Linked DNA regions of Homo sapiens. The protein of the gene in region 2 interacts with the protein of the main gene of each other region in a pairwise test. Each region holds a gene or a part of one and is shown on either strand. Other genes may lie near its edges.

Region 1 (16,073 bases), on a different chromosome or scaffold from region 2:
ATATCTTTTTAGAGGGGCACAATTCAACCCGTAACAGTTCACACTCTGCCCCCTGCCCATCCTTTCCACATGCAGAATCTATTTGCCTCCTCCCGACATCCCCAAAAGCGTTAATCATTCCAGCATCCACTCTAAATCCTAAATCTCATCTACTCTTCTTCAACTCAAAGACTCAAATCCCATCATCTACCAAATCAGAGCCTCTTCAGGAATGCTGGGAAACACGTACTGTATGCAACAGCCTCTCCAGAAAGAATCCTCAGCACATAACCCGAAACAGACACTGGTGGGGCGGCCGAGGACTGCACTGCCGCATTCTGACATCAGATAGCGGTGAATGCTTCCTAGAGACGGTTTCTCAAAGGAAGTTCAAACATCTCTAAAGATGTCCTTTCAGAGAAAACAAGGAAGTATGTCAGGACTTCCTGGCCTTCCCAAGCATCCTGAGCCAGAAAAGTGCAGTCACTGTGCTTTCTAGTGAAGAATTACAGGCAATTATTTGAATGTGTGATTGCAGGATTAATTTCTTTCTCATTTGTTATTTGTGTGTTGTTTTGTACCATAGCTTTTTTTTTTTTATTTGAGACAGTCTTGTTCTGTCGCCCAGGCTGTAGTGCAGCAGTGTGATCTCAGCTCACTGCAACCTCTGCCTCCTGGGTTCAAGTGATTCTCCCACCTCAGCCTCCCATATAGCTGAGATCACAGGTGCCCAGCTAATTTTTGTATTTTTATTAGACATGGGGTTTCGCCATGTTGGCCAGCCTGGTTCTTGAACTCCTGACCTCAGGTGATCCACCTCCCTCGGCCTCCTAAAGTGCTGGGGATTATAGGCGTGAGCCACCGCTCCCAGCCCATAACTTTTCTTTTGACTGCTATTGTCATTATTGGATATAAAAAAGGCTTGGAGGTGGGGTGTGGTGGCTCACTCCTATAATCCCAGCACTTTGGGAGGCCAAGGAGGGCAGATTGCTTGAGTTCAGGAGATTACTTGGGCAATATGGCGAGACCCCATCTCTACTAAAAATACAAAAAAAAAAAAAAAAAATAGCCGGGTGTGGTGGTACAAGCCTGTGGCCCCAGCTACTCAGGAGGCTGAGGTGGGAGGATTGCTTGAGCCCAGGAGATGGAAGTTGCAATGAGCCAAGATCGTGTCATTGCACTCCAGCCTGAGTGCAGAGCGAGACAGAAAAAACAAAAGGAAGTTTTTCTGGAGTCCTGAGACATATTCAGGATTCCAGAAGCTCTCAGAGCTGCAGGGGTGCTGCTGCGTGGTGGTGCTGACACTGTTTCATTGAGCTTCCTCTGTCTTTTCAGCACCTCACCCTGACCTCGGCTACTCTGTCAACCTCAGACCCCGCAGCAGGGGCTGAACAAGCTGGGAAAGGGGCAAGGATCACAGAAGTACATCCCTACAGCAACCTCTCTGGAGGGCAGCCGAGCATTAAGTGTGTCAGCCAGGCTACTGACGGGGGATCAAACAGAAGAGGGCAGGGGAGGATGAGGGAAGACAGCAAACAAAGAGATAAAGCTCAGGGAAAATGCTTGGGTAGAGAGAAGGAAACTCACAAAGCAGAGGCGTTGTAAGAAAGGAAGAGAAATGAAGTGAGCATTGGGAAAACCCACGTGGAGGAGAAAGAGAAAGGGCAGAAGGAGCAGAGAAGGGAAAACCACAGATTGCCATCCCTCTCTTTGGTGTATCTGCAGAAAGAATTGGCTGGTCCAGCTTTGCACATATGAGTGCTCCAGGAAGTGGTTTATCCTTTAGTCCTGGGTACTGCGCCCAATGCCACAGGAGGGTAGGTTGCCACCTTGGACCCATTGAAGCCCACAGGAGGGGCAGTGAGAGGTGAATGCCACCACTGGGGCTGTCCTGAGTTGGTGGCCCAGGCCCAGGGTTCCCCCAGGAAACAGCCCTGCGGTGTGGAGTCTCAGAACAAAGGGAGAATGTGCTCTTTTGCAATGCTCTGTGGCCGTCGGCACTTGCCTTACTGCAACGAAGCAAGGAATTGTGCCACCTTTGACCCAGACCTTCAAAGCCCGGTTGTTTGTTTCTGTCTGTAAAATCTATCTGTATGAACAATCATGAACAAACAGATTTTACAAACATTTGACAGACAAATCTGGCTCATCCATTGTGAGACTGTTTCTCAGTGGGAGAGACACAGGGTGATAGCTACACTATAACCACCATCATTGTTTTCCTTCCATGTGACTGTGACAGTCTTGTGAATTTTCTCAATGTAAAAAGTCACTTAAAATTAACTCATGGCCAGGGTGTGGCCAGGGCGTGGTGGCTCATGCCTGTAATCCCAGCACTTTGGGAAGCTGAAGCAGTCAGATCACTTGAGGTCAGTGGTTCCAGGCCAGCCTGGCCAACATGGTGAAACCCCGTCTCTACTAAAAAAGAAATACAAAAATTAGCCAGGGGTGGTGGCACACCCCTGTAATCCGAGCTACTTGGGAGGCTAAGGCAGGAGAATTGCTTGAACCCAGGAGGTGGAGGTCACCGTGAGCCAAGATCGCATCATTGCACTCCAGCCTGGGCAACAGAGTGAGATTCTGTCTCAAAAAAATTAATAAATAAATAAATACAATTAACTCATAATATACTATAATCATATACATACTTTTGTTATATGCACGTGGATATACAAACATCTTACTTTAACTTTACAAAGAAAACTTAGTTAATACGGCTAACTCGATGAGTAAGTTCCTAAAATGCCAATACGGGAAGAGCTTTTTCTCCCCCCAACTCTTTAAAGAGCCTGTGGTTAAATTTTATAACCTTCCTTCATTCACTGAGGTGGTATTTGCCCAGGGCTTACTATGTGCGGAGTACTATGCTGAGTGTTAGGGAGAGCTACCACACAGACATGACCTCTGTCCACGAGTTTATTTCCTACTGGAAATAGCCACGGTGGCCAAATAATCACAGCTAGAAATTGTGACAGGTGCCAGAAAGGAAAGGTACAGGGTTTGCTGAGCATGTATAACATCGGGCTGGATCCCGGTGACCTATGAGCTGAAATCTGGAGGTTAAGTAGAAGGAAACGGGTGGGTGGAGGATGGGGTGAGGGCTGGAATGCAGGGGTCCTTCCAGGCCGCAGGAACAAAGTTTGCAAAGGCCAGGAGGCACGAGGGTGCAAGAGGCTTCAAGGAAATGAAAGGAGGCAGCACGGCTGCGTGCAGAGAGCAGGGGTCAAGCTAGGTGTCAGGTGAGGCAAGTGAAGGAACAGGTAGGGATTGATTGCACAGAGTGTGTAAGCCTCAAGGACTGAGGATCTGTCGGAGTGTTGGAAAGCCAGCACCGGATTCAAAGCCAGCACAGACAAATGGCAGAATCCGATTTGTTTTTAAAAGACGACTGGCTGGGCACAGTGGTTCACACCAGTAATCCCAGCACTCTGGGAGGCCGAGGTGGGTGGATCACTTGAGGTCAGGAGTTCGAGACCAGCCTAAAAATACAAAAAATTAGCCAGGTGTGGTAGTGTGCACCTGTAATACCAGTTACTTGGGAGGCTGAGACAGGAGAATCTCTTGAACCCGGGAGGCGGAGGTTGCAGTGAGTGGGGATCACGCCACTGCACTCCAGCCTGGGTGACAGAGTGAGACTCCATCTTGAAAAATAATAATAATAAAAATAAAATAAAAGATGGCCCTGGCAACCTTTTGCAGAATAGGTTACCAGAAGGCAAGAGTGGGTGTGAAAACCTACGTTGGAATGGTGTGAAAACACCAGGCGGGAGAAGAGTGTGGGAAATCAGGCGAGAGAGTATGGTCACTTGGTCTGGGGTAAAGCGAGCTCAAGATATGGGCACCATCTATGGTTTCATTACAGAAATAGGAGTAAGGGGATGTCTCCTGTGGGTTGCAGAAACGAAACAATATGTTAGGAAGGGGAAATTGGGGTGTGTGTGTGCGCCTGTGTTTAAATGGAGGAGCGCTCATTTTATAGACAGAATAGAGTCCCAGAGCGGGAATGGACATTTGGATCATCTTTCAGATGGTCAAGTATGTTCTTCAGCATCCTCTGCCAACTGGTGGGGAGCTCTCACCCTTAGGAGGCCTCCTTTCTCTTTGTAGGAAGCCCAAATCCATCTCTCTCTAAAGTTTTCACCGACAGGTTTGGGTTCTACCTCTTGAAGTCAAAGAGACAGATTCTTTCCACATGACGCCCTCTTATCATCATATCCTCTGTCCTCTCACTCCTCCACATGTCCTGGGATTTTGAAATCCCTTTGTTCCATGTTGCCCATTTGTTCCAGGTTGTGCACATCCATTTTGGCTGGGCTGGGCAGACTAAGAACACCATCTTGGGAAATCTGGAACCTGTAGCTTTTTATTTATTTATTTATTTATTTTGAGATACAGGTTTTTGCTCTGTCACCCAGGCTGGAGTGCAGTGGCTTACTGCAGCCTCGACCTCCTGGACTCAAGCAATCCTCCTGCCTCAGCCCCCCGAGTAGCTGGGACTATAGGTATGCACTGGCACATTTGGCTAATTTTTCTATTTTTTGTAGAGTCAGGGTCTCACTATGTTGCCAAGGCTGATCTCAAACTCCTGGCCTGAAGCAATCCTCTTGCCTCAGCCTCCCAAAGTGCTGGCATTACAGGCCTGAGCCACTGCACCCAGCCACTGAGCTTTTTACACACTGTGGTCACTGCTGAGCTGTTTCCCAGCCCCCATCTTGCCTGGTACTGTCGATTTAGGGGAGCCCAAGTAGATTTTACATTTTATCTCCATGCAGTGTATCTCTCTCAAGATCTTTTTGAATTCCCCCACCCCCCACCCCTGCAATCATCATTTAATGAGATCTGAGGCCACTAGTAGTAAAATCCAGCCTAAAACACCCCTTGGCACCTTGTCAATTCAGTTCTCAGAAAAGGAGGTGGATGCTAGGGTAGGAGTGGAGTGGGATGGGGCAGTAGGAGGGTTTCTCCCTTTGTTTCCCCTTCTGTTTTTTCAAACAATAGGTATGGGGATGGGGAAGAATATCTAGACAATGTATTTATTTTCCGCATCCAATTGATAAAATGTTTAACAATCCCCACTTAAAAAAAAAAAAGGTAGATCTTTCTTTGAAGTTTCCAAGAAACGCCCCCAAACCCAGCCATCACAATGCCAACTTAGTTGTTGGGTGTAGTCTTCTGACCACCTGCAGACACACTGTCTCCTTTTGACTGCTGAAGCCACAATTTAAGGATGGAACATTCAAACTCGGCCCCTGCCCAAGCTCAAGAAATGAAATAGGAAACGCGTTTATCTAAACGGTTATATCAGGTTCTGTGTAACTCTCTTCAGTGTTTCCAACCTCAACAAAACCAAGTAAAGCCCCAGTGTACTCTGAGGGATAGATCATTCATTCGTGTGTTCAAGAAACACCCACGGATGTCACCGTCTAGGTTATAGGACAGCGGAGAGAGAGAACTCCAGGAAAGCGAGGTCTGGGACGGATTTTAGATTCACGTGAGAGAATAGAGAAAAATCTCCACTCCGACCTCGGGTACCAACACACAATATTTTAAAATAAAGACAGAACTAGAGGCCATTCTAATCACAGATGGGATCCCACAGGTGGGATCCGCCTCTCGATTCTGCGGATACTATCTGATGAAATAGCTCCGAGGGCCAATGTTTAGACAGACAAAACCATTTCATCAAAGTGCAATGGGAGAGAGGAAGAGGAGTAATGAGAAGGCATGTGAGCGGGGAGAAAGAAAAAGCCCGGGAGGCGAAAACGAAATCCACCCCCTTGCGCCCATTTCTGCCAGAGGTTTGCAGGACGTGTCTCAACCTGGCATCCCGAGTCCAGAACAAAAGCCACGGGGGCTGCGGCATGGGCAGGGGGAAGGCGCGCGGTGGCTGACGCGGGGCAGGGGCCCTGGCGAGCGCGGGAGGGGCGGTCAGCAGCCGCTCGCGGGGCTGGACTGGGAGCCCCGTGCGACTCCGGGTCTGGCGCCTGGGTCGGGGGTGGTTCCCGGGCCTCCCTCGGGGGTCGCCGAGGCCCGGCCTCGATAGCCCTGCGGCTGCTGCGAGCGCCTCCCGAGCTCCCGCCCCGCGGTGCTCGCTCCAGGAGCGGGCGCGGCGCTGTGTCCCTTTACCTGCGCGCAGAGGGTCGTCCGGTGAAGCCATGGCGGCGGGTTAGGGGCAAACGAGCGTCCGAGCGGGGCTGGCAGGCCTCCGGGGCGCGGGAGGACCGTGGGACCACGGGGATGAAAAGTCCTGCGGTTCCGACGCGCCTGGAGCAAACCGTGGCTCTGCGCGCCCCTGCCCTCCTCCGCCTTCCCCTCCCTTCTTCTTCTCCTCCTTCGCTTCTTCCACGAGCTCACTTCCTGCTTTGGCAATTAGCAAAGCCCCTTCGCTGCGCGTCCCTCGGTACCTCCCTCCAGAGGCGCGGGGCGGGAGCCGGGGTGCCGCGACCCGGGGCTGGGACGCAAGGCGGGGCCCCGAGTGTCCCGGGCGTCCCCAGCGCCCAGAGCGCGCGTCCTGCCCGGTACCCACGTCCCCCTGGGCGGGTCCTAGCGGGGGGCTGACACGACTGCCGCCCGGGACAGACTGCGAGCGAAGGACTGGCCTTAAGAAACGGCTGCAGTCGCGGGTCGCTTTCCTGGCTCCCTACTCACGCCCTCAGCTGAGACACCAGAACTCCCCTTACACAGGCCTGGGCTGAGATGCCCGCCGGCGATCTGATATTTAGACAAATTTCCTGATCTTTAAGCAGGCTCTGCCGCTGCATGATGGCACACGCTGGTACTTTCTATTTTGATTTTTCTTTGGCATTAGTTACTACATGACCTCCAGGGTGAGTGCTGCAGAAAAGGAGTGAACAGAAGTCGCCCAATACACACTCACAGCTTCTCTAGAAAAAACAGCTTCGGGTTCTCTCAGAAAAGATGGCTTCAAATATTTAAAATATTACGCTTAAGTGGGGTTTTATACCCATTACTTAAGTGAGAACACGTTGGAATTGGTTATGAAGAATATATTTAAGATTGCTACATTTTAACTAAAGCTATCATCCATCATAAGCCTATTATAGGAAGGCGACAGGCATTTTAAATTAAATAGGAATCTTTGAAGAGCTCTAAATAATCTTTCTCTGCCTTCACACATAAGAACAGAAAGATAAAAGTCGGGTCGAAAAAGATAATAATAGTATTTAGTGTATAATATATCCAAGAATTATCGTAAATAAGCAACCTCTGGCTAAAAACTCAGCTCTGAGAAATCCAGGAAGACAGCAAATGCCTACATACCCTCTTGGTGACCAGGAGCTTTAGTGCCTCTCCCCATCTGTTTAGTCGTCCTGAGGCCCATGGCGATGTTGAGTTTGGCTTCTTAATTCTCTGGAGTTTGCCATGGAAGAAGCAACAGATTGCGAGAAGATGCTCGCTGGTTGTCTGGCCAGAGTCAAACCTTCTAGATGAAAGCTCTCTGGGGAATTTGTAGGTGGGAGGATAAACTTCCTCTTGGTCTGCCTTCGGATAGGAAGGGAAATTTTTTTTAAGGGTATTTTATCTTAGAATCAATTTGGAGGTTTGGTTTGTGGTTCTTTCTGTACTTCTCATGGAGATGGAATTATTCTGACGTTGGCCGTCAGGAAACACTAGTTGAGTGAGCTTGTTAGCAGCCCAACCTCAAGCATTGCTATAAAGCTGGTTTGCTTTTTGAAACTCTGAAATGTAATTCATGTTTTTATCATTCCCATTCTGCATTATATCAAATAGAAGATGGTGGTATATTTTAAGGGTTTTTTTTTTTAAGGAAGATTGACTAGTTACGTAGTTATTACTCCCTTTCATTTTCATTTCCTCGTGCCTCCTTTCCTATGAATTGCAACGATCCCCATCATTACCTTTATTTTTCCCATGTGCTTTGCGAACTATAAAGTATGACGCAAATGGGTGCTATTGTTGTTTTGCACTTTACAAAAAAAGTAATTTAAAAATGATTCGCATTCACCAGAGTTCCCATACAATCAATTTGCTGTCACAATGTCCTTCAACTTTTATTTCTTTTGCTGTCCAAGAGTGTTTTAAACCACTATTGAAAATAGACATTTTTGGGCTGGGTGCAGTGGCTCACACCTGTAACCCCAGCACTTTGGGAGCCCAAGGCAGGTGGATTATTTGAGGTCAGGAGTTCGAGGCCAGCCTGGCCAATGTGATGAAACCCCACCGCTACTAAAAATACAAAAAACTTAGCTGGATTGGTGGCACATGCCTGTACTCCCAGCCACTCAGGAAGCTGAGGCAAAAGAATCGCTTGAACCTGGGAGGTGGAGGTTGCAGTAAGCTGAGATTGCACCACGGCACTCCAGCCTGGGCGACAGAGTGAGACTCTGTCTCAAAAAAAAAAAAAAAAAAAAAAGAAAGAAAGAAAGAAAAGAAAATGGACATTTTTAACATTTCCCGATAGTACCCAAACACTCAATCTCAGAGTCATGTGAAAAATTTCATATTTCCATAACTTCACTGCTCTTTGAGTGACCTCCAATTTTCCTTTTCCAATAAATGGAGATAGTGCATTTGGTAATCATGGAGTCAAATATGCTGGATTTCGCTGATGGACCTGTCACTCTAAGGTTGTGTTACATTAAGTAAGAAACCAAAACTGAGTCTGCAAGTGTCTGCAGGATTGTGAGAATTCACTGAAATAATGTTTATGTGAAAATACTGGCTGGGCATGGTGGCTCACACATGCAATTTCAGCACTTTCGGAGGCCAAGGTGGCAGGATTGCTTGAGGCAAGGAGTTCAAGACCAGCCTATGCAACATTTTGAGACCCAGTCTCTACAAAATAATTTAAATATTAGCTGGATCCCAGCACTTTGGGAGGCCAAGGTGGGTGGATCGCTTGAAGTCAGAAGTTCGAGATCAGACTGCCCAACATGGTGAAACCCCGTCTCTGCTTAAAATACAAAAATTAGCTGGGCGTGGTGACAGGCACCTGTAATCCCAGCTACTTGGGAGGCTGAGGCAGGAGAATCACTTGAATCCAGGAGGTGGAGGATCAGTGAGCTGAGATCATGCCACTGCACTCCAGCCTGGGTGACAGAGTGAGACTCCATCTCAAAATAAATAAATAAATAAATAAATACAAATACAAATACAAAAATTAGCCAGGTGTGGTGGCAGGCACCCAACTACTTGGGAGGCTGAGGCAGGAGAATCGCTTAAACCTGGGAGGCAGAGCTGCAGTGAGCTGAGATTGTGCCACTGCACTCCAGCCTGGGTGATAGAGCAAGACTCTGACAAAAAAAAAAAAAAATTAGCTGAGCATGGTGGTACATGCCTGTAGTCCCTGCTACTCTCGGAGGGTGAAGCACGAGGGTCACTTGAGCCAAGGAGTTACAGACCTCAGGGAGCTATGATCAGACCACACCACTGGGTGACAGAATGAGACCCTGTCTCCAGGCAAGCAAACAAACAAACCTAAACTAAGGCCTGTCATATAGTAGGTGCAAATAAACCAGCTACTTTCCTACCTTCATTCTTTCCTTGGAATTTAGTTTATTGAGAGAAGCTCCTATTGCCTTAGTTATAAGAAGTCAACCAATATTTATTACAGTGTTTGTACACAGCATGGAGCAATGGATTGATTGGTTTCATTCATTAATGCAATTTTAAAAATCTCACCCCCTCCCCATGAACAAAACAAAATTCCAAGCCCTGGGGAAATCCAAATGAGAAGTCCCTGACTGTTAGGAGTTTGTGGTCAAAAGAGATTTGCAAATACTGTTTTGCTATAGTACTGGAGAAATGAAAGTTTAAACCAGGAAAGATGTGTGTGTGGAAGGAGGCACTGAAGATGTATGGAAGCAAAGTGGCTTGGTCATGACCATCTCGGATTGACAGGGAAAGTTTCAGGCAAATTCCGAGGCTTTAACTCATGGGCACAAGGCTGCAGCCGTAAGTGTGGAAAGGACTGTTGGTCTCATGTCTTTTCACAAACAGATGACAATGATCAGAAATGTGCTGTTTTAAATGGGGGAAACAACAACTCAAAATATATTTTGTTTGATTCATCACAGAATACATGTTTTTGCTTATTTTATGCCATTTGAGGTAAGTGTTACAGTGAAATTTCTGCAATCTAAAAAGTTACATTATTGAACCACATGTGTCTTACTTCAAAGGATATGTACATTCCATACAGATAAAACCCAGCAAACTGGGCTGCTCAAGTGGGACTGATCTACAGAAAAGTGGCTAGAACCACGATGGTAAAATATAAATTTAGGAACATAAGAGACCCTATGCCTCAGAATGTGCCAGTTCCTACAGTTGAATTTGCTTGATATACCCTTAGTGAATCATATGTGATGGAAGATGCCCCAACAAGAGTTACTAAGTTTCCATGTCTCTGCATTTTTGGAACAGACAGTTGTTAAATTTTGCCCAGAGTGCTTTAAGGCAGTTGTACTAACTTCTGGTAATAGTGTCCAAGTTTTCTTCTTGAGAATCACTGTTCCCATCCTCAATCCAAGCAATTAGGTGGTGGCGACATCACCCCTGACTCCTGAGTCCAGGGGCTGGAATATGACTCAATTACAGCCTTTCAGGGCATTGCTACAGTGAGCCACTGAGTGGAGGAGGTGCGTGGGATCTTTACAGGGACAGGGGGACCGGTCTTAAAATAATTAGCCCAAGCTGGGCGTGGTGGCAGGCGCCTGTACTCTCAGCTACTTAGGAGGCTGAGGTGGGAGAATCACTTAAACCCAGGAGGGGGAGGTTGCAGTGAGTTGAGATCACACCATTGTACTCCAGCCTGGCGACAGAGTGAGACTCCATCTCAAAAAATAATAATAATAATAACAACTAACCCAAGAGCACACAGGTGGTAAGTGGTAGAAGGAAGGAGCAGGAGTGAAACATTTAGGAGGCTCTAGACTACTGACCTTCTTGAATGCCAGACAAAAGCATCTGAAACTAGTTTTTAGACAACAGGAAGCCAGGAAGCTAGTTTTTGAAAAGTGGCATGAGAAAATTGGTGTTTTGGAAGATTAATCCAGCAGCTGTGTGTAGGATGGAACAGAGCTAGGAGAGAATGCAGGGAGAGACCCTTTAATCCTTTTGATACACTGTAATTTATTAGAGTTGAATTTACATCCTCATCCAAATGCAGGAGAAACATATCAGAATTTTTTTTCCATACGTTATTGGGGTACAGGTGGTATTTGGTTAATGAGTAAGTTCTTTTTTTTTCTGAGACGGAGTCTCGCTCTGTCCCCCAGGCTGGAGTGCAGTGGCTGGATCTCAGCTCACTGCAAGCTCCGCCTACCAGGTTCACGCCATTCTCCTGCCTCAGCCTCCTGTAGCTGGGATTACAGGCGCCCGCCACCACGCCCAGCTAATTTTTTGTATTTTTAGTAGAGATGGGGTTTCACCGTGTTAGCCAGGATGGTCTTGATCTCCTGACCTCGTGATCCGCCCGCCTCGGCCTCCCAAAGTGCTGGGATTACAGGCATGAGCCACCACGCCCGGCCATGAGTAAGTTCTTTAGTGGTGGTTTGTGAGATTTTGGTGCACCCATCACCCGAGGAGAATACAGTGCACCATATTGGTTGTCTTTTATCCCTTGCCCCCTCCCACTCTTCCCTCAAGTCCCCAAAGTTCACTGTATCATTCTTATGCCTTTGCATCCTCATAGCTTAGCTCCTACACATCAGTGAGAACACACGATGTTTGGTTTTCCATTCCTATCAGAAAATATTAAATCTTCTTTTGCTACCTTCTTGTTTTTGAGACAGGGTCTTGCTCTGTCTCCGAGGCTGGAGTGCAAAGTGTAGTGGCATGATCACAGCTCACTGCAGCGTCGTCGTCCTGAGGTTCAAGCAGTCCCTCCACCTCAGCCTCTTGAGTGTCTGGGACTACAGATGTACCCCACCACGCCTGGCCAATTTTTTTATTTTTATTTTTTGTAGAGACAGGAGTCTCACTACATTACCTAGGCAGGTCTCGAACTCCTGGGCTCAGGGAATCCACCTGCCTTGGCCTCTAAAGTACTGGGATTACATGTGTGGGCCACCATGCCTAGTCTTGTTACCTTCTTAAGCATTCATTATTATACAGGAGTCAATTGCCTTGTAGATTTTGCATACATACATAAAATTATCTGGAAAGTTTTATTCCAAAATGTCAACAGAGGGACAGAAGCTTAAGTAAAATATTACCTTTGTGCTGATTTGATTTCTGTTTGTCAGAGACACAGCATTCCAGTGCGTGTATTTAAGCATGAATCTTAAGTTCCTCTCTTCACTTATGCAATACCCTTCCTCACACAGGAGATTAAATCTCTCTTGTCTACTTGCAGTTTACTTTGAATTGTTTACTCACTAGAAGCATGAGCAGTGTTTGGTTTCCCACAAACAGAATGGCAAAGTGTGGGTGATTCTTAGTATGGTGTATTGCTAAACACACTTAGAATGCCCTGGGTGGGGAGTGGTAGGTGCAGAGCAGAGAGGAGGGATGGGATGGGGTGAAAAAGTGTGGCTGTGCAGAGGGCACTTTTATTCTACATATCCTCCTGTAGCCTCGGGATCCTCACTCACAACCTTGCAGGTGTTCCTGGTGCCTTGATCATGGGTGCTCCCACACCCAGCACCATTTCCAGCTGCTTTTTTAGTGAATGCCTTCATACATAGCAATTTATTTCTTGCTTCAGATTTTGAGATAAAATCTGTTCCAAAAGATGAACTTCATATATTAAAACCTGAAACCCAAGTAATGAAATTCAGCTAGAGAAGTTTTTTGAGGGATGTTTGCTTTGGTTATTGCTGTTGCAAGAAAAGGACAAATGGAAAAACAATCTAGTGTTATCAGTGACCATAGCTAGCGTTCAGTATCTTTCTACTCCCAGAATGGAGAACACAGGCTCAGACTGGTAACTCAGGAATCTACAAAATGATCAATCACTTTAAAAATTCATTTAACAAATTGTCATTTAGAACTTATTCTGAGCTAAGACAAGAAGGTGGACTTGGATCCAAGTGAGTCACCTGAGAAACTATTAGAACTAATAAGTGAATATAGCTTGGTGGGGAGTTATCAAACACCAAGAGCTTTCTTATATGACAACAATATCCAACTGGGTGCGGGGGGAAGGTCCCATTTAAATCAACAAGTAAAACTATAAAGTAACTAGAAATAAATTCAATAAAACTGTGTGAGAGCATTATTGCAAATACTACAAAGCTTTAGTGAAAAACATAAAAAGAAATCTGACGGAATAGCAAGCTATACCATGTTAATGGATAAAATGTCTCAATATTGTAAAGATAGTCATGATTCCTTAATTAATCTACAGATTCAATGCTAACTCAACCAAATTAACAAGACTTTCTTGGAACATAAAACTGATTGCAAAATTCATATGGGAGAGTAAATTCAAGATCACTTTGAGAAAGAATAACAAGGATTTGTCTTACAATATAGCAAGATATGATAAAACAACAGTAGTTAAAACACTGAATATTGGTACAAGAAAAGTGAAAAAAAGATTAATGGAACAGAACAAAAATGTAAGACACAGACTCATGTATGTGTTTGGAATATGATAAATGATAGACACATTTAAATGGTCAAAAGACAGTTCAAATGGTGTTGGGAGGATACACACACACACACACACATACACAATGCAATTTATATTTCTGTCTCACCCTATACACAAAAGTAAGCTTTGGATAGATTAAAGATCTAATTGTAAAACATTAACTTTCAAATTATTATTATTATTATTTTTTTTTTTAATTTATTTTTTTATTGATAATTCTTGGGTGTTTCTCACAGAGGGGGATTTGGCAGGGTCATGGGACAATAGTGGAGGGAAGGTCAGCAGATAAACCAGTGAACAAAGGTCTCTGGTTTTCCTAGGCAGAGGACCCTGCGGCCTTCCGCAGTGTTTGTGTCCCTGATTACTTGAGATTAGGGATTGGTGATGACTCTTAACGAGCATGCTGCCTTCAAGCATCTGTTTAACAAAGCACATCTTGCACCGCCCTTAATCCATTTAACCCTGAGTGGACACAGCACATGTTTCAGGGAGCACAGGGTTGGGGGTAAGGTCACAGATCAACAGGATTCCCAAGGCAGAGGAATTTTTCTTAGTGCAGAACAAAATGAAAAGTCTCCCATGTCTACTTCTTTCTACACAGACACGGCAACCATCCGATTTCTCAATCTTTTCCCCACCTTTCCCGCCTTTCTATTCCACAAAGCCGCCATTGTCATCCTGGCCCGTTCTCAATGAGCTGTTGGGCACACCTCCCAGACGGGGTGGTGGCCAGGCAGAGGGGCTCCTCACTTCCCAGTAGGGGCGGCCGGGCAGAGGCGCCCCTCACCTCCCGGACGGGGCGGCTGGCCGGGCAGGGGGGCTGACCCCCCCCACCTCCCTCCCGGAGGGGGCGGCTGGCCGGGCGGGGGGCTGACCCCCCTACCTCCCTCCCGGACGGGGCGGCTGGCTGGTCAGAGGGGCTCCTCACTTCCCAGTAGGGGCGGCCGGGCAGAGGCGCCCCTCACCTCCCGGACGGGGCGGCTGGCCGGGCGGGGGGGCTGACCCCCCCCACCTCCCTCCCGGACGGGGCGGCTGGCCGGGCGGGGGGCTGACCCCCCCACCTCCCTCCCGGACGGGGCGGCTGGCCAGGCGGGGGGCCGACACCCCCACCTCCCTCCCGGACGGGGCGGCTGGCCGGGCGGGGGGCCGACCCCCCCACCTCCCTCCCGGATGGGGCGGCTGGCCGGGCAGAGGGGCTCCTCACTTCCCAGTAGGGGCGGCCGGGCAGAGGCGCCCCTCACCTCCCGGACGGGGCGGCTGGCCGGGCGGGGGGCTGACCCCCCCACCTCCCTCCCGGACGGCACGGCTGGCCGGGCGGGGGGGCTGACCCCCCACCTCCCTCCCGGATGGGGCGGCTGGCCGGGCGGGGGGCTGACCCCCCCCACCTCCCTCCCGGACGGGGTGGCTGCCGGGCGGAGACGCTCCTCACTTCCCAGATGGGGTGGCTGCCGGGCGGAGAGGCTCCTCACTTCTCAGACAGGGCAGCTGCCGGGCGGAGGGGCTCCTCACTTCTCAGACGGGGCGGTTGCCAGGCAGAGGGTCTCCTCACTTCTCAGACGGGGCGGCCGGGCAGAGACGCTCCTCACCTCCCAGACGGGGTCTCGGCCGGGCAGAGGCGCTCCTCACATCCCAGATGGGGCGGCGGGGCAGAGGCGCTCCCCACATCTCAGACGATGGGCGGCCGGGCAGAGAGGCTCCTCACTTCCTAAATGTGATGGCGGCTGGGAAGAGGCGCTCCTCACTTCCTAGATGGGATGGCGGCCGGGCGGAGATGCTCCTCACTTTCCAGACTGGGCAGCCAGGCAGAGGGGCTCCTCACATCCCAGACAATGGGCGGCCAGGCAGAGACACTCCTCACTTCCCAGACGGGGTGGCGGCCGGGCAGAGGCTGCAATCTCGGCACTTTGGGAGGCCAAGGCAGGCGGCTGGGAGGTGGAGGTTGTAGCGAGCCGAGATCACGCCACTGCACTCCAGCCTGGGCACCATTGAGCACTGAGTGAACGAGACTCCGTCTGCAATCCCGGCACCTCGGGAGGCCGAGGTTGGCGGATCACTCGCGGTTAGGGGCTGGAGACCGGCCCGGTCAACACAGCGAAACCCCGTCTCCACCAAAACCAGTCAGGCGTGGCGGCGCGTGCCTGCAATTGCAGGCATTCGGCAGACTGAGGCAGGAGAATCAGGCAGGGAGGTTGCAGTGAGCCGAGATGGCAGCAGTACAGTCCAGCTTTGGCTCCGCATGAGAGGGAGACCGTGGGGAGAGGGAAAGGAGAGGGAGAGGGAGAGGGAGAGGGAGAGGGAGAGGGAGGGGAGAGGGAAAGGAGAGGGAGAGGGAGAGGGAGAGGGAGAGGGAGAGGGAGGAGAGGGAGAGGGAGAGGGAGAGGGAGAGGGAGAGGGAGAGAGCTAACTTTCAAATTATTAAGAGAGAATACAAGAGAATCTCTTAACAATTTGGTAAAAGGAAGAGCTTTCTTTTTTTTTTTGAGATGGAGTTTCGCTCTTGTCGCCCAAGCTG
Region 2 (15,703 bases):
AGAGGCCTCAGAAATAATGCTGCATATCTATAACTATCTGATCTTTGACAAACCTGACAAAAACAAGCAATGGGGAAAGGATTCCCTATTTAATAAATGGTGCTGGGAAAACTGGCTAGCCCTATGTAGAAAGCTGAAACTGGATCCCTTCCTTACACCTTACACAAAAATTAATTCAAGATGGATTAAAGACTTAAATGTTAGACCTAAAACCATAAAAACCCTAGAAGAAAACCTATGCAATACTATTCAGGACATAGGCATGGGCGAGGACTTCATGTCTAAAACACCAAAAGCGATGGCAACAAAAGCCAAAATTGACAAATGGGATCTAATTAAACTAAAGAGCTTCTGCACAGCAAAAGAAACTACCATCAGAGTGAACAGGCAACCTACAGAATGGGAGAAAATTTTTGCAACCTACTCATCTGACAAAGGGCTAATATCCAGAATGTACAATGAACTCAAACAAATTTACAAGAAAAAAAAAAACAACCCCATCAAAAAGTGGTCAAAGGATATGAACAGACACTTCTCAAAAGTAGACATTTATGCAGCCAAAAGACACATGAAAAAATGCTCATCATCACTGGCCATCAGAGAAATGCAGATGAAAACCACAATGAGATGCCATCTCACACCAGTTAGAATGGCAATCATTAAAAAGTCAGGAAATAACAGGTGCTGGAGAGCATGTGGAGAAATAGGAACACTTTTACACTGTTGGTGGGACTGTAAACTAGTTCAACCCTTGTGGAAGTCAGTGTGGCGATTCCTCAGGGATCTAGAACTAGAAATACCATTTGACCCAGCCATCCCATTACTGGATGTATACCCAAAGGATTATAAAACATGCTGCTATAAAGACACATGCACATGTATGTTTATTGCAGCACTATTCACAATAGCAAAGACTTGGACCCAACCTAAATGTCCAACAATGGTAGACTGGATTAAGAAAATGTGGCACATATATACCATGGAATACTATGCAGCCATAAAAAATGATGAGCTCATGTCCTTTGTAGGGACATGGATGAAGCTGGAAACCATCATTCTCAGCAAACTATCACAAGGACAAAAAACCAAACACCGCATGTTCTCACTCATAGGTGGGAAGTGAACAATGAGAACACATGGACACAGGAAGGGGAACATCCCACACTGGGGCCTGTTGTGGGGTGGGGGGAGGGGGGAGGGGGGAGGCATAGCATTAGGAGATATACCTAATGTTAAATGAAGAGTTAATGGGTGCAGGAGACCAACATGGCACATGTATACATATGTAACAAAACTGCACGTTGTGCACATGTACCCTAAAACTTAAAGTATAATAAATTTATATATATACATCAAAAAAAAAAGATTTCTTGAGGTCTTAGATGCATTCTGAAAGTGCTATCCACTATTTTTGTACTTCAAAATGACACGATTGTGACCCTTGAAATACTCAGAGAATATTTTACTTGTAGATCTCAAAACTGCATAATAAATATTACTCAGAGTCATAAGTATCGACAGAGTCGTCGACAATATTCCTATTCTTTAATGCCTAACACCATACTGACAAGATTAATTGAAAAAATATGCCTTAGGGGAAAATGTAACAGTTGGGTATGGAGGGTGGGGAGGCTCTGGGATGGTGGGAAGGAGAGCCTATGATACAGATTATACTATCTTCATTGTTAAACACTGAATATAATCTCCTATCTTTCCTTACCAGCAGATTCACCTTCAACCTTCTTGCTTTTACCTAATTTAAATCGTTGCTTTATTCACACCTAAAACAAACACTGTCATAGGTTCATGTCCATTGCAGCATTTTGTGTACAGACTACAAGTTTTGCTTTAGAAGTTATGAGAGGCAGAAGGAACACAGCTTGAGGTTTTAGTTTTCAGGCTGAGCTTGCAGCAGGGGAGACCGAACAAACTTTGGGCTTGAAACCAATCCAACTTGTAAATCATCAAGGAAAAATGAAACAAAATTAACAATTAAATCTACCCAGGTCTAGTCTAGGGAAAAGCTGTAAAGTTCTAAATATGAGGATTTGGGTTCAATTCGCACACCTCCTGTCCCTGATATATCCTGCTCATGCTCCTGCAAAGCATGTCCGACCCTTGGTACCATTTTATGTTTGGTTGATCTGATACCACTCCTTTCAGCATAGCTGATGACCCCTGCTAGCACCAATTTTCCAAGACCATGTTTCTTCTTCCCACTCTTTTTTTGGTACTACATGCATTCTACCAGTGGTTTTGGACGTTGTAATTCATTCCAGAATAGCGGAGACTTTGATCCTAATATTTTCAATTTGTCAGAAGGGAAAGCAGTCCCAAGACAGGTTGGTAGTAGGAATTGGCAACAAGGAGTCATCTTTGGGAATCCCCAATCATACTGGGTGGGCCACCTACTTTGTTTCCAGAGAGCTGGCAAAGGTAGGTAGAATACAGAATAAATTTCTCTAGTCATTTTGTTAATGATCTATTCAGGAGAACACAGTGTTTGTACTGAATGATCCTTATTGTTGATATACAAGCCCTATGTCATTAAGTAATGACACACCTCTTGCCTTCAGTTTGCCCATGATTACTTAGTAAGTTTGAGGACTAAGTTGTATATTTTTATTTGATAGACAACATGATTTAGTAATAAGAGACAATAGCCTAGACAGAGGAATAAAGAGTTTTAGGTCCTCTTGTTCTCTTACAGCTAAATTGTGGCAAATTACCAAATTTCTGAGTCTCAGATTGCTCTCCTGTAAAATGGAAATTTTAAAAGCCTATTACTAGTCTAGGGATCAAATAAAAAAATAAACATAAAAGGGCTTTGCAAAATATAAAGTTCTTCACTGATAAATCATCATTTATCTTGTTTCTGTCCCTAAAGGGAGTTAAATTTGTCTTAACTCCTCTACTCCCTCTCAACTAGTCCTCCTCCTTGAGAACAACTTAGAATATTCATTTGTAAAATAGATGCCCCAGTTAGGGGTATGGCTAGAATAAAGCCACTGTCCCTAAAAGAAAATGAACCTACAGCTAAAGCTAGTGAGACCATACAAGGAAGAAAGTGGTCTGACTGATCTCATGTTATAGTTTCAAGAAGGAGCAGATGAACTCCGTGAACACTGAGTTATTCACTGTCAAGATGCACGATGTCCAATCAGTTCATTCTGATTTGCGGAATGTCATTAGATCACTAGCATCTAATAGGTGGATGAACTCAGTGTACTCAGGGGTGAACAGGTGTCTCACAGCTGGGAGCTGCCAGAGAGCCAAGGTGCAATCATGAACCATGTTTTCTGAAATTAGCTCTGATGAAAAATATTATTCCAGAGAGAAATTTTTCAAAGAATAGGCAGAGCATTTGGTAAATATAGGATTGAACACTGGAAAATTTAAAAGAATTTTGTTTCATTCTAATCACTGAATGGTAGTATACAGAATTCCATCTCTACAGTTGAAATTGCATCTCCATACGACAGACAACTGGATCTGAAGTTTAATATCTTGCATGGACATTACCATGATTACATATATAAATTACCCCAATCAAGGTGAACAAAGGTGAAATGATGCTGTGCTTATTTTTAAATATTTCTGCCTAGCACTAGTTGGATAGACTCAGCCAAACTTTGGGCCTAATTATCTGCTCCAATGATGAGAAGTGACATAAAACTATCAAAGATAACCTTACTCAGCACATCATATGTTTAAATAGCAAGTTGCAAATTACACTTTCAGAAGCAAGGTTACATCACCTTGTATTTGATAAAATGATTGGTTTGCCAAGGAAGGAGGATCCTACTTGCCCACTGTTCCAGCATTAGCACTACTTTTTCCAGCTTGCCTCATAAATCCTGGAATAAGGTAACTGATTTCCATCTATAGGCATACCTTGGAGATATCACAAGTTTTGTTCCAGGCTACCACAATAAGGCAAATATTGCAATAAAGTAAGTCACAGGATATTTTTTTTGTTTCCCAGTGCATATAAAAGTGACACTGACACTACAATGTAGTGTGTTAAGTGTGCAATAGCATTATGTCTAAAAAAAGTATCTACCTTAACTTAAAAAATATTGTATTGCTAAAAAAAATCTTGCTTAAAAAATATTGCTTAAAAAAGTTGGCTGCAGCAATTGACTCTTTATTTCACAAAATATTCCTCCATGATATGAACTGCTCTTTGATAGCATTTTACCAACAGTAGAACTTCTTTCAAAACTCAAGTCAATCCCCTTAAACTCTGGACTGCTTTGTCCACTAAATTTATGAAATATTTTAAAATCTTTGCTGTCATTTCAACAACGTTCACAGTATCTTCCCAGGAGTATATTCCATCTCAGGAAACCAGTTTCTTGGCTTATCTATAAGAAGTAACTCTTCATCCATTAAAGTTTTACTATGAGATTGCAGCAGTTCTGTCATATCTTCAGACCCCACTTCTAATTCTAGCTCTCTTGCTGTTTCCACCACATCTGCAGTTACTTCCTCCATTGAAGTCTCAATCCCTTCAAAGCTGAGACTTTGAGTTCCTGAGAGATGGAATCAACTTCTTCTAAACTACTATTAATGATATTTTGACCTCTCCCACCAATCTCAAATGTTGTTAATGACATACAGAATGGTGGATGTTTTCCAGAAGTTTTTAATTTACTTTGTCTAGATCTATCAGAAGAATTCCTATCTATGTCATCCATAGCCTTATTACTTCTTAAATAATAAGATGTCAAAGTTAAAATTACTCTTGATCCATGGGCTGCAGAATGGGTTTTGTGTTAACAGGCATGAAAACAACATTAATCTCCTTGTACATCTCCATCAGAGCTCTTGGGTGACCAGGTGCATTATAAATGAGCAGTAATATTTTGAAAGGAATCTTTTTTTTTTCTGAGCAGTAGGTCTGAACAGTGGGCTTAAAATATCCTGTACATCTATGCTGTTAAGTAGATGTGCTGTCATCCACACTTCATTGTTCCATTTATAGAGTACAGACAGAATAGATTTAGCATAACTCTTTAGGGCCCTAGGAGTTTCAGAATGATAAATGAGTATTGGCCTCAAATTCAAGTCATTAGCTGCATTAGCCCCTAACAAGAGAGTCAACCTGTCCTGTGAAGCTTAGAAGCTATGAAAGTCCTAGATGGCCTTTTCTTTCTATAGAAAGCTGTCTTATCTACATGGAAAATCTGTTGTTTTGTGTGGCCACCTGCTTCAATTATTTTAGCTAGATCTTCTGAAAAACTTGCCACAGCTTCTACATCAGCACTTGCTCCTTCACCTTGTACTTTGATGTTATGGAGATGGCTTCTTTTCTTAAATCTCATGAACCAACCTCTGCTTGCTTCACATTTTTCTGCTACAGCTTCATCACCTCTCTCAGCCTTCACAGAACTGAAAAAAGTTAGGGCCTTGCTCTGGATTAGGCTTTGGCTTAAGGGAATGCTGAGGCTGGTTTTATCTTTTATTCAGGCCACTAAAACTTTTTCCATATCAGCATGAGGCTGTTTCGTTTTCTTATCATTTGTGTTTTCATTGGAGTAGCACTTTTAATTCCCTTCTAGAACTTTTCCTTTGCATTCACAACTTAGCTAACTTTGGTACAAGAGGCCTAGCTTTTGGCTTATCTCAGCTTTTGACATGGCTTCCTCACTAAATTCCTTCGGTTTTCGATTTAAAGTGAGAGATGTGCCACCCTTCCTTTTACTTGAACACTTAATAGTCCATTGTAGGGTTATTAATTGGCCTAATTTCAATATTGTTGTGTCTCAAAGAATAGGGAGGCCTGAAGAGAGGAAGAGAGACAGGCGCCAATAGTGAAGCTTTCAGAACACACACAACATTTATTAAGTTTAGCATCTTCTATGAGCAGAGTTTGTAATGCTCCCAAAAAACTACAATAGTAACATCAAAGATAACTAATCATAGATCACCATAACAGATGAACAGCAAGTGAACACATGCTGCTTGAAAAATGATGCTGACAGACTTGCTTGAGTAAGGTTGCCAAAAAACTTCAATTTATAGGAAAACATATTATCTGCAAAGTACAATAAAGGGAAGCAAAATAAAAGGAGGCGGGGATTTGCTTATGGAAACAGCTTCGTATCTGTGATAAAGGAATATACTAAGTAAAATATGGACTACCCTGGACTGTCTAACACAACTACAACCGATATTCACTTGGACAAGAACTTAGTTCAAGTGCTTCTGTGGTCACACAACCCAAAAGGCCTCCACAGCAGAAAAGCTGCTATTAGGTACTCACTAACTAAGTACTGAGTCCCCAGTGTTTCCTGAGGGTTATTTCACAGGCTCCTGACCCTGAAGCCTCTCAGAGTTATTCCAACATTAAGGTCACTTCTATGAGGAAGAGGTGAGAGGAAAAAAGACCAATAGTGGAAGGCCAGCTTCAGCGCAACACATGTATTTAATAGTTTCTCTCATCTTTGAATATTTATTCACATTTCCCTTTAAAGTCTGTTTTTGAGGGGGAGAAGCTTTATTCGTACCTACTTAGTGGCTGCTTTATAGCAGTAAAATAGATGCTTTTGCAGAATTCTTTTCTGCTTTTCTTTTGTGAGACGGAGTCTCATTCTATCACCCAGTGGGGAGATGTCGGCTTACTCAATCTCTGCCTCGCAGGTTCAAGCATTCTCCTGCTTCAGCCTCCCGAGCAGCTGGGACTACAGGCGGGTACTACAGGCGCGCACCACAACGCCCGGCTAATTTTTGTATTTTTAGTAGAGACGGGGTTTCGCTATCTTGGCCAGGCTGTTCTCCAACTCCTGACCTCAGGAAATCCGCCCGCCTCGGCCTCCCAAAGTGGTGGGATTACAGGCGTGAGCCACCGCTCCTGGCCCCTGCCTTTTTATTAGAGATACAAATCACACACGCCCTTCGCTTCAAGGGGAGCCCCGCCCCCTACTTCGGGCATTCGGCCATCCTGTGTTCTCTAATGGCGTGGGGCAGAGCTATCGCGAGACTCCACTGTATCCTCAGCAAGTTTTTAACAGTGTGAACTTGCGCAGAAGAGACTCATGAAGCCAGCGCAGGAGAAAGGGGGCGGGGTGCTCTGACGAGCGCGTTCGCCTTGACCCCACGCTACAGCGCGCGCCCGGCAGCTAGGCGCTGTGGTTTCTGGGTCTCCCGGGGGACCCCTACACGTTCCGGCAAAAAGCGCTCGTGCCCACCTCAAGCCCATGTTCGGTGGGTGGCGAATGCGTGCCCGTGATCTGCTGGGTCTGTAGAGGAGCGCAGGCCTGGTGCAAACAGACTCAAGAGGCTCGGAGAACCAGCTTGGGTAGGCGCTTGGGTGATGGAAGGTCAGGGGTCAGAGGTCGGGAGGGAGGGAGGGAGGTGGTCTTTGGCCTCCGGGACCAGGGAGGGAGGACGCTGGTTGTCCTGGAGCCCGGGAAGCTCAAGGGCTGAGAGGGAGCCGCTGCGCGAGTCTTCCCCACCTCTTCCCGATCCCGGACTAGCGAACTTCGGACCACCACGTCCCTCCGGGGATAAAGTGGGGTCGTGGGAAAGGAGGCTGTGCTTCTCCTCATGCACTGGGGCCTGCGGTGTTTGTCTCGAGCGTCCAACACACTAGGATCCGGGAGTCCGTCGTCACGCTCCTTGGCCTCGCGGTCGCTTGTTTGCTCGGCCTGCTGGGAGCGATCCGGCGCTGACAGCCCCGCTCAGACTCCGGGAGCCGCTTGTGGGTCTTTCGGAAGATAACTGAGTGGGTACCGTGCGCCGCAGATCTACCCCCGGAGGCTGGAACTGGGTCGCCGCCTCCCTTCTTTGTGCGCGGCATTGTATTAGTAAAAGGGGAGGCAGAGGTTTCTCAGTCCCACTCAAAGTTCTCCGTTACCTTTGGAGCCAGATTAATTACATTCGAATTCAGAACCACTCTTTGACATTGTACAGTTTGACTGGTAGTTGCTATGTTTATGAACGAAGATAGGGTGTTATTTGATGATTAATAGTCACTGTATAATGATCAGTTAAATAATGACCAGGAAGCTTGTGCCCTTTTTCCAAGTAGTTTGACATTAGCACGAGGTAGAAATCCGAGATGTTTGATGCCTTCCAACTTGTACTTAAGGAACTTAAGGAACTTGGGGCTTTTTCTGAACAAAATAAGATAAAGTTATTACTGTTACTTTAAATTATTCCAGTGGGCATTAGTAGGAATGATGAAACTCTTGAATAGAAACGATCCATGATATCTCTACTGTCACAAAAAAGACTATTTAGTTTATGATTAGTAAACATGCTGGAGACAGAGCAGTCCTGAGCAGTATTGTAATGATTATGTCTGTGCTCGATAACCTGCACTTTCTAGAGCTTTAAAGGACCAGTTAACCAGTAAGCTGGCAATTGAGAATAAAATAGTTTACTTTTGAGAGATGCTCTTGTATATCCTCTTTGTCCACCCGAAAGGAGCTGGACTTACAGAATTATTAAAACAAAACTTTTATTATTAAGAGTTTAGGCCAGTAAGATTTAGGGGAAACAATTTGCTGGTGAAAAAGCTTCTTATGAGGGCATTTTTAAAGTTTATGTAACTAGCATATTTTAGCATTCAGTAGAAGAAAATACTCTCACCTTGCTGGAATTATTTCTACAGAAAAGGAAAAGATTATGTTAACCCTGGGTCATTAAGAGCTTCCTAGTACTTAGTAATGAGTGGGCTTCATTTCCATAACACAACATTTTGGACAGGAATATGGCAAGTATGTAATCCTTTTTGCCCTTAATAGCCTAAACCCAGATCTACCATGGATTTGTTGTAATTCAAGATTTGTGTGTATCTTTTAAAGAGGAAATAATATTTTGGAGGGAAAAAATGTGAATTTAAGTTGTGTTATTCATTTGTTGGATTGTCTTAGTAATGTAACATTTTATGTTTATTTTTCTAGCATTCCATCCTTGTTTTCTGTTAAAGATACAGTTCAGGCAGTTTTCCCTGCCTCGTTCTAGTATTTCATTTTTCTCAGAAATACTAGTTTCATATTACCTATAGTCTTCTAGAATGTGGATAAGAGAGACTTCTCCAAAAAGAAATAAGAGTAAAGTATCGTTAGGTCCTCAAAAGGAGGGAATACATCCACGGAATTAGAGATCTTTGTTTCACCCTTTTTGTATGTCTTTACTTCCTAGCACTGACCTGGCATTGGGAGTACAACACTGAATAGGATACTACTCCTGCCCATCTTTCAAAGTGAACACTCTAGCAGTTGGGATCGAGGAGAGAGAGGCCCTTAACTCAGCTTCTCTAGTCATGGAAGCCTTTCCAGGGAAGATTGGGATGGAGACAGGCATAAAAGCAATTCAAGCAAAAGGCTTTTATATTTAAATACAAGACAGTAAAAGTGCGGTCCATATAGAAAACTTCACATAATTACGTTTTACCCAAACACTGCTAATTAAGGAGGAGGAAGAAGTAGTTGTGACTGATAAGGTATGAATAAAACCAGAAGAATATGGGATGTGGTTAGATACAGAATTTCACCAGTACTTGACTTACTAGTTGCCAAATTGCATTTTAGTCATAAGTATATTTGACCAAATACTATTTTCTTTGGTTCAAGAAGTTAACCCTGAATAGAGATTTCCTTAAGTAAAGACTCAGTCAAAACCAGGAGCTTTTTGTTTGGTTGGTTGATTTTTGATCATGAATGTTTACTCAGTTAAGAACTGGACAAAGGGAGAGCATTGCTAGAAATTCTGGTGTTGACTTTTCTGCAGTTTATCATTATCACTGATAAGTACCTTGAGGCACTAATATTGGAAGAATCAGGCTGAAAGAATACATCTGAAGGAATGTGCAAATTATAATGGTGTACATAATTTAAAAGATACTGGATAGGTTTTACCAGAGAACAGAATAAATAGTTGAAGTAATGTTTTCTGGTTTGGTAATATGTCTGTTACAAAATTATTGTGGGAAACATGGCACATATTACTTCTCACATTCCATTGGCTAGGACTGGTCACAGGACCAAACCAAGCTGGGCAGTCATTTCTCAACTACTCTATACTTTGAGTGGAAATAAGTGGATTTTAGTTGGCAGCTGGTTATCCATAACAAGGTTTTTTGAACTTGGCTGCACCCTGGAATTTTTTAGGGATTCTAAAAAATAAAGGGAGTAGTGCCTGGGCCCTTCTCCAAGACATTCTGACTTAGTTGGCTCGACATCAGGATTTTTTTAAGTTCCCCTGGTGATTCTAATGTGCAGTCAAGTTTGAGAAGCACTAATCTGTGGTCCCCCATCCTGCGACATTACAGTTTGGTTATTGTGAAATGTGGTTTAGAGCAGGGGTCCCCACCCCTCAGGCCATGGACCGGTGCCAGTCCGTGGCCTGTTAGAACCGGGCTGCATTGCAGGAGGTGAGTTGCGGGCAAGCGAGCATTACCACCTGAGCTGTGCCTCCTGTCAGATCAACAGTCAGTAGATTACCATAAGAGCATGAATGCTATCGTGAACTGCATATGCGCAGGATCTAGGTTGTGCACTTCTTATTAAAACCTAATGCCTGATGATCTAAGGTGGAATAGTTTCATCCCTAAACAACCCCCTCTCCACTCCACCCCTCTCCTCCGGTCCATGGAAAACTTGTCTTCCATGAAACCCATTTATGGTACCAAAAAGGTTGGGAACTGCTGGTTTAGAGTGTTCTCAGGATGATGATAAGTAGCAACTACCATTTATGGAATACAGGCCAAATTTCTAGTACTGCTGTTGTACTTAAATTATTTCTAACCACAATCCTGCTATCATCCCCATTTTAGAGATGAGAAAATTGGCACAGAAGACTGGATAACTATTCCAATGCCACACAGTCAGTAAATGCCAAAGCTGGAATTAGAATGAATATAAGACTTCAAAGCATTGCATTCTCACCTTTAAGCCACATCGCTTTGCTAATGTGAGACTCTGCTAGACAGTTGCTTTTTGGGTTTTCAGAGTTAATGATTCCACAATAACCATGTTATTAATATTATTATGGTTAGTGTGATACATTGTGTAACTGGCCCAATTCCCTTCCAACACTCCCTCTACCCTTCCACCCCCCATATCCATGCTCTTTGCCATGTGCAGTTTCACCTAGTAAAGAGGTGTAGTATATTTCTTCACCACTTGACATTGGGTCCATGGATATGTCTTGCTTTGGTCTGTGGCACCTTAGTGGTTTTTAAGCACTTTGAAAACTACTTGTGTGATTGGATTTGCAGTAATACACCTCAACCATTGCCATAAAGAACATTCCTGAGTTACTTTGCTGATCCAAGGAGAGGGGATAGGAACTACATTAAGCAGAGCCAAACTGCTTTTCCAGAAACCTAGCCTAGATTAGCCTCCTTCAGCTAATGTGCAGATCTATGAGAATAAATGATTGCTATATCAAGGTATTGAGCTTTGAGGTAGTGTGTTACACAGCATGTTTGTGGCAGTAGTTAACTGATAAGCTACTATAGCATAACTTTTTAAAGTTCCTGCAGAGTGACCCACTTTCAGTATTCCAGCTTATGCTTTGAGGAAAACTGGACAAACATAAACACTTAGGAAATTAAGAGCTTTCTATATTATTCCACTAAGATAAGAGAGGATAAGATGCTTTAAAAGTAGTTGACCATAGCCAAGGATTGATTTTAATCCATCACCTGCACATTCATAAGTGAAGCACGGGCTAAGGGAATAGAATTCTCATGATTGACTTAAACAAGCACTGTCTGATACATAGACTTTTTGCAATTATGTGAATGCTCTATATTTGTGCTGTCCAGTACAGTAGCCACTAGTCACATAGCGCTACTGAGCACATGGGGCTAGTGAGACTGAAGAGCTGAGTTTATAACATTTAATTTTATTTATAGTCATGCATCACTTAATGATGGGGCTGTGTTTTGAGGAATGCATCATAGGCAAGTTTGTTGTGTGAACATCTTAAGAGTATACTTACACAAACCTAGGTGGTACCGCCAGCCTACTACACACCTAGGCTCTATGGTACAGCCTGCTGCTCCTAGGCTACAAACCTGTACAGTATATTCGGTACTGGATACTGTAGGCAGTTGTCACACCGTAGTATTTGTATATTTAAACATATTTAAATATAGAAAATGTACAATAAAGATATGGTATAAAAGATAAAAAATAGTACACCTTTGTGGGGTACTTAGCATGAATGCAGCTTATAACACTGAAGGTTGCTCTGGGTTAGTCAGGGAGTGAATGTGAAGGCCTGGGACATTACTGTACACTTCTGTAGACTTTGTAAACACTGTACACTTATGCTACACAAAGTTTATTAAAAAATAAAGTAATGCGGCTAGGCGCGGTGGCTCACGCCTGTAGTCCCAGCACTTTGGGAGGCTGAGGCATGCAGATCTTGAGTTCAGGAGTTCAAAACCATCCTGGCTAACACATGAAACCCCGTCTCTACTAAAAATACAAAAAAAAAGTTAGCTGGGCATAGTGGCAGGCGCCTGTAGTCCCAGCTACTCAGGAGGCTGAGGCAGGAGAATGGCATGAACCCAGGAGGTGGAGCTTGCAGTGAGCAGAGATCACGCCACTGCACTCCAGCTGGGCAACAGAGTGAGTCTCTATCTCAATAAATAAATAAATAAATAAATGCATTATGATGTTACAATGGCTATGATGTCACTAGTCCATAGGAATTTTTCAGCTCCCTTATGGAACCACTGTAATATTTGGTCCCTCATTGACCAAAATGTCATTATACAATGCATAACTGTATTGAAAGTTAAGTAGTCACATGCAGCCAATAACTACCTTATTGGATTTGCTTTGGCCAATAGTAGCTAGAAACTACTTCCTTGGAGGTGCCAAGGAAATCACTTCCTTTGAATCATAGGGCCACCTTGTTCCTAAATAAAGGTTCAGTCATCAGGGAAGGAGGATAGACCTTAGGCAGGTAAATAATGTCACTTTAGTTTCTTTTATGGTTATTGGTCTATTCATATTTTCCTTCTTGGGCCAGTTTTGTTCATTTGTATTTTGTTAGCAAAATTTTATCACTTTATAATTTATCATTTTATCTAGATTTTTCAGATTTATTGAATAAAGTTATACTTAATATTAAAATTTCTAAATCTCGTGCATCTTTTTGTTTTTGCTCTTTAAATCAACTTTATGATATAATTTATGTATAAGAAAATTCAATTTAAAGTATATAATTTGATGAGTTTTGACAGATGTATACTCTGCAATCATGTGTTGAACATTTATGTCACCCCAAAGCCTGCCTTCCTGCTCCTTTACTGTCAGTCACCTCTTTATACTTCCTTGCCCCTGGTAACCACTCATCTACTTTCTGCAATCAGGTTTTTGCCATTTCTAGAATTTCATGTAAATGGAATCATATAGTATATAGTCTTTCACATCTAGCTTTCTTCAGTTTAGCATAATGCTTTAACAGTTCATTCAGGTTATTTTACAGAAGTCTCTTTTTATCACAGAATAGTATTCCATTGTGTGACTATGCCACAATTTGTCCATTCACCAGTTGATGGACATTTGGGTTTTCTTCCAGTTTGGGGCTTTTAATAGTAAAGCTGTTAACATTCAAGTTTAAATTTTTGTGGATTTATGTTTTGATTTCTCTTGGATAAATACCTAAGAGAGGGATTACTAGGCTGCATAGTAAGTTATATTCAATTTTATTAGAAACTGATACTTTTCCAAAGTGACTGTGCTGTGTTCAAATGTTGGAGAGTTCAGTTCTGTTTGAGCCATACTCTCAGTGTTTTAAATTTTTGACTATTTTAGTATATGAATAGTGGCATCTCATTGTGATTTGTGGGTTGAATTTGTATTGCTTTAATGACTGATGCTGGTGAAAATATTTTCATATGCTTATTTTACACTTATAGGTCATCTTTGGTGAAATGTCTATTCAAAATTTTTGACTTTTTTAAATGTTTGTCTTACTATTAATTTGTGAGAGTTCTTTATATATTCTGCAAACATATCCTTCATCAGATACTTGATTTGCTAATATTTTCTCCCATCTGTGACTTGCTGTCATATTTTGATGACAGTATCTTTTGAAGAACCAAAATATTTAATTTTGATGAAACTTAGTTTATCATATTCTTACATAGTCTATGGTTTTTGTTTCCTGCTTAAAAATTTTTGTGCCTTTTTTTTGGGCTAATCCAATGTCATTTAGGTTTTCTCCTCTGTTTTCTTTGAGAAGTTTTAGTTTTAGCTTTTATAGTTTATTATCTATTTTTAGTTAATTCTTACATTTTAGGAGGTAAAGCTTCATTTCATTGCATATTGGTATCCATTTACTAAAAGGATACCTTTCCCATTGACTGCCTCTGAACTTCTTTCAAAAATCAATTGACCATCCATGTGTGGGTCCACTACAGGACATTTCCCTTGATCTATATGTTGGTCTTTACACCACTACTGCACCATTTTTATTTCTTTTGACATATGTCTTGGAATCAGTGTAAGTCATTCAACTTTATTTTTCTTTTCTAAAATTATATTGACTTTCCTGTATTGTAGGCATTTTAGTATAAATTTTAACATCAGGTTGTCAGTTTCTACAGAACAAACCTGTTGGAATTTTGAATGGGATTGCTTTTCTATAGGTCAGTACTAAGAAATTGACATCTGAACATTTTGAGTCTTCTAGTCCATGAACATAGTACACTGTATAGATCTCTGATTATACTGTTATACTATTTTCTAAATTTTTATGTATGCTTGAAAATTTTCAGAATGAAAGTATAGTAAGTTATCTTTTACAGAAATTTAAAAATCAAGAAAAAAGTTTACTATATTTATACACATATTTTTTGTTTTTGCTTTTTATTTCCTTGTGTGTGGATCCAGATTTCCATCTGATGTCATATTTCTTCTACCCAAGCGCTTCTTACATTACTTAGATTGTAGGTATACAGGTGATAAGTCCTTTTGGCTTTTGTTGATCTTTTTTTCACCTTCATTTTTGAAAGATATTTTGCTGGGTTTAGAGCTGTGGGGTGGGAGCAGTGTCTAAACCAGAGAAATAGGGCCAATCTGGAGAGAAGTCCTCACTTTTCAGTAATTTAATTATGGCATACCTTATTGTGATTGTTCTTTATGTTTGCCCTGATTGGGTTTCATTGAGCTTCTTGGTTTTCTGAGTTGATGGTTTTTATAGAAGTTGGAAAATTTTCATGCATGATTTTTTCAAAAAGTTTTTTGTATCCTTTCCATTCTTTGCTGCTGAGATTCCAGTTTTATGCATGTTTGACTCCTTAACATTGTCTAGTAGGTTTCTGATGTTCTATTTATTGTTTTTTCAGTCTTTGTTTATCTCTACTTCATTTTTGACAGTTTCTGTTGTTACTGTTGTTTCCATTGTTTAAGCTTATTCTGCTTCTTTTTTTCTTTGCCATTTCTAATCTGCTGGTAATCTCATACAATGTGTTTTTCGTTTTAGATGTTGCATTTCCATCTGCATAAATTCTATAGGAGTCACTTGTATATCTATCATTTTTCTTTGTCATATTCATGTTTTCCTCTACCTTTAACATATTGAGAATATTTACAGTAGCTGTTTGAATGTTTGTTTCTGCTAATTATATCATCTGTGTCTTTTCTGGGGCTTTTTGATTTTTTTCTTGTAATGGGTCTTATTTTTCTGTTTTATTTTCATTTTTTTTGCGTGCCTGATAATTTTAGAT

Evidence for each region.
Region 1: the proteins of SHPRH (region 2) and EDARADD interact in binary tests that used the Homo sapiens proteins (3 or more experiments, as listed by UniProt).

The regions. Positions count from the first base shown.
Region 1 is NC_000001.11:236,385,693-236,401,765, reverse strand, and holds the start of EDARADD (ectodysplasin-A receptor-associated adapter protein), read right to left. Parts: upstream 7,481-16,073; 5' UTR 7,322-7,480; coding exon 7,261-7,321; intron 6,354-7,260; exon of another isoform or gene 6,137-6,353; coding exon of another isoform or gene 6,106-6,136; intron 1-6,105. UniProt on the Homo sapiens protein: Adapter protein that interacts with EDAR DEATH domain and couples the receptor to EDA signaling pathway during morphogenesis of ectodermal organs. Mediates the activation of NF-kappa-B.
Region 2 is NC_000006.12:145,955,757-145,971,459, reverse strand, and holds the start of SHPRH (E3 ubiquitin-protein ligase SHPRH), read left to right. Parts: upstream 1-7,101; 5' UTR 7,102-7,729; intron 7,730-15,703. UniProt on the Homo sapiens protein: E3 ubiquitin-protein ligase involved in DNA repair.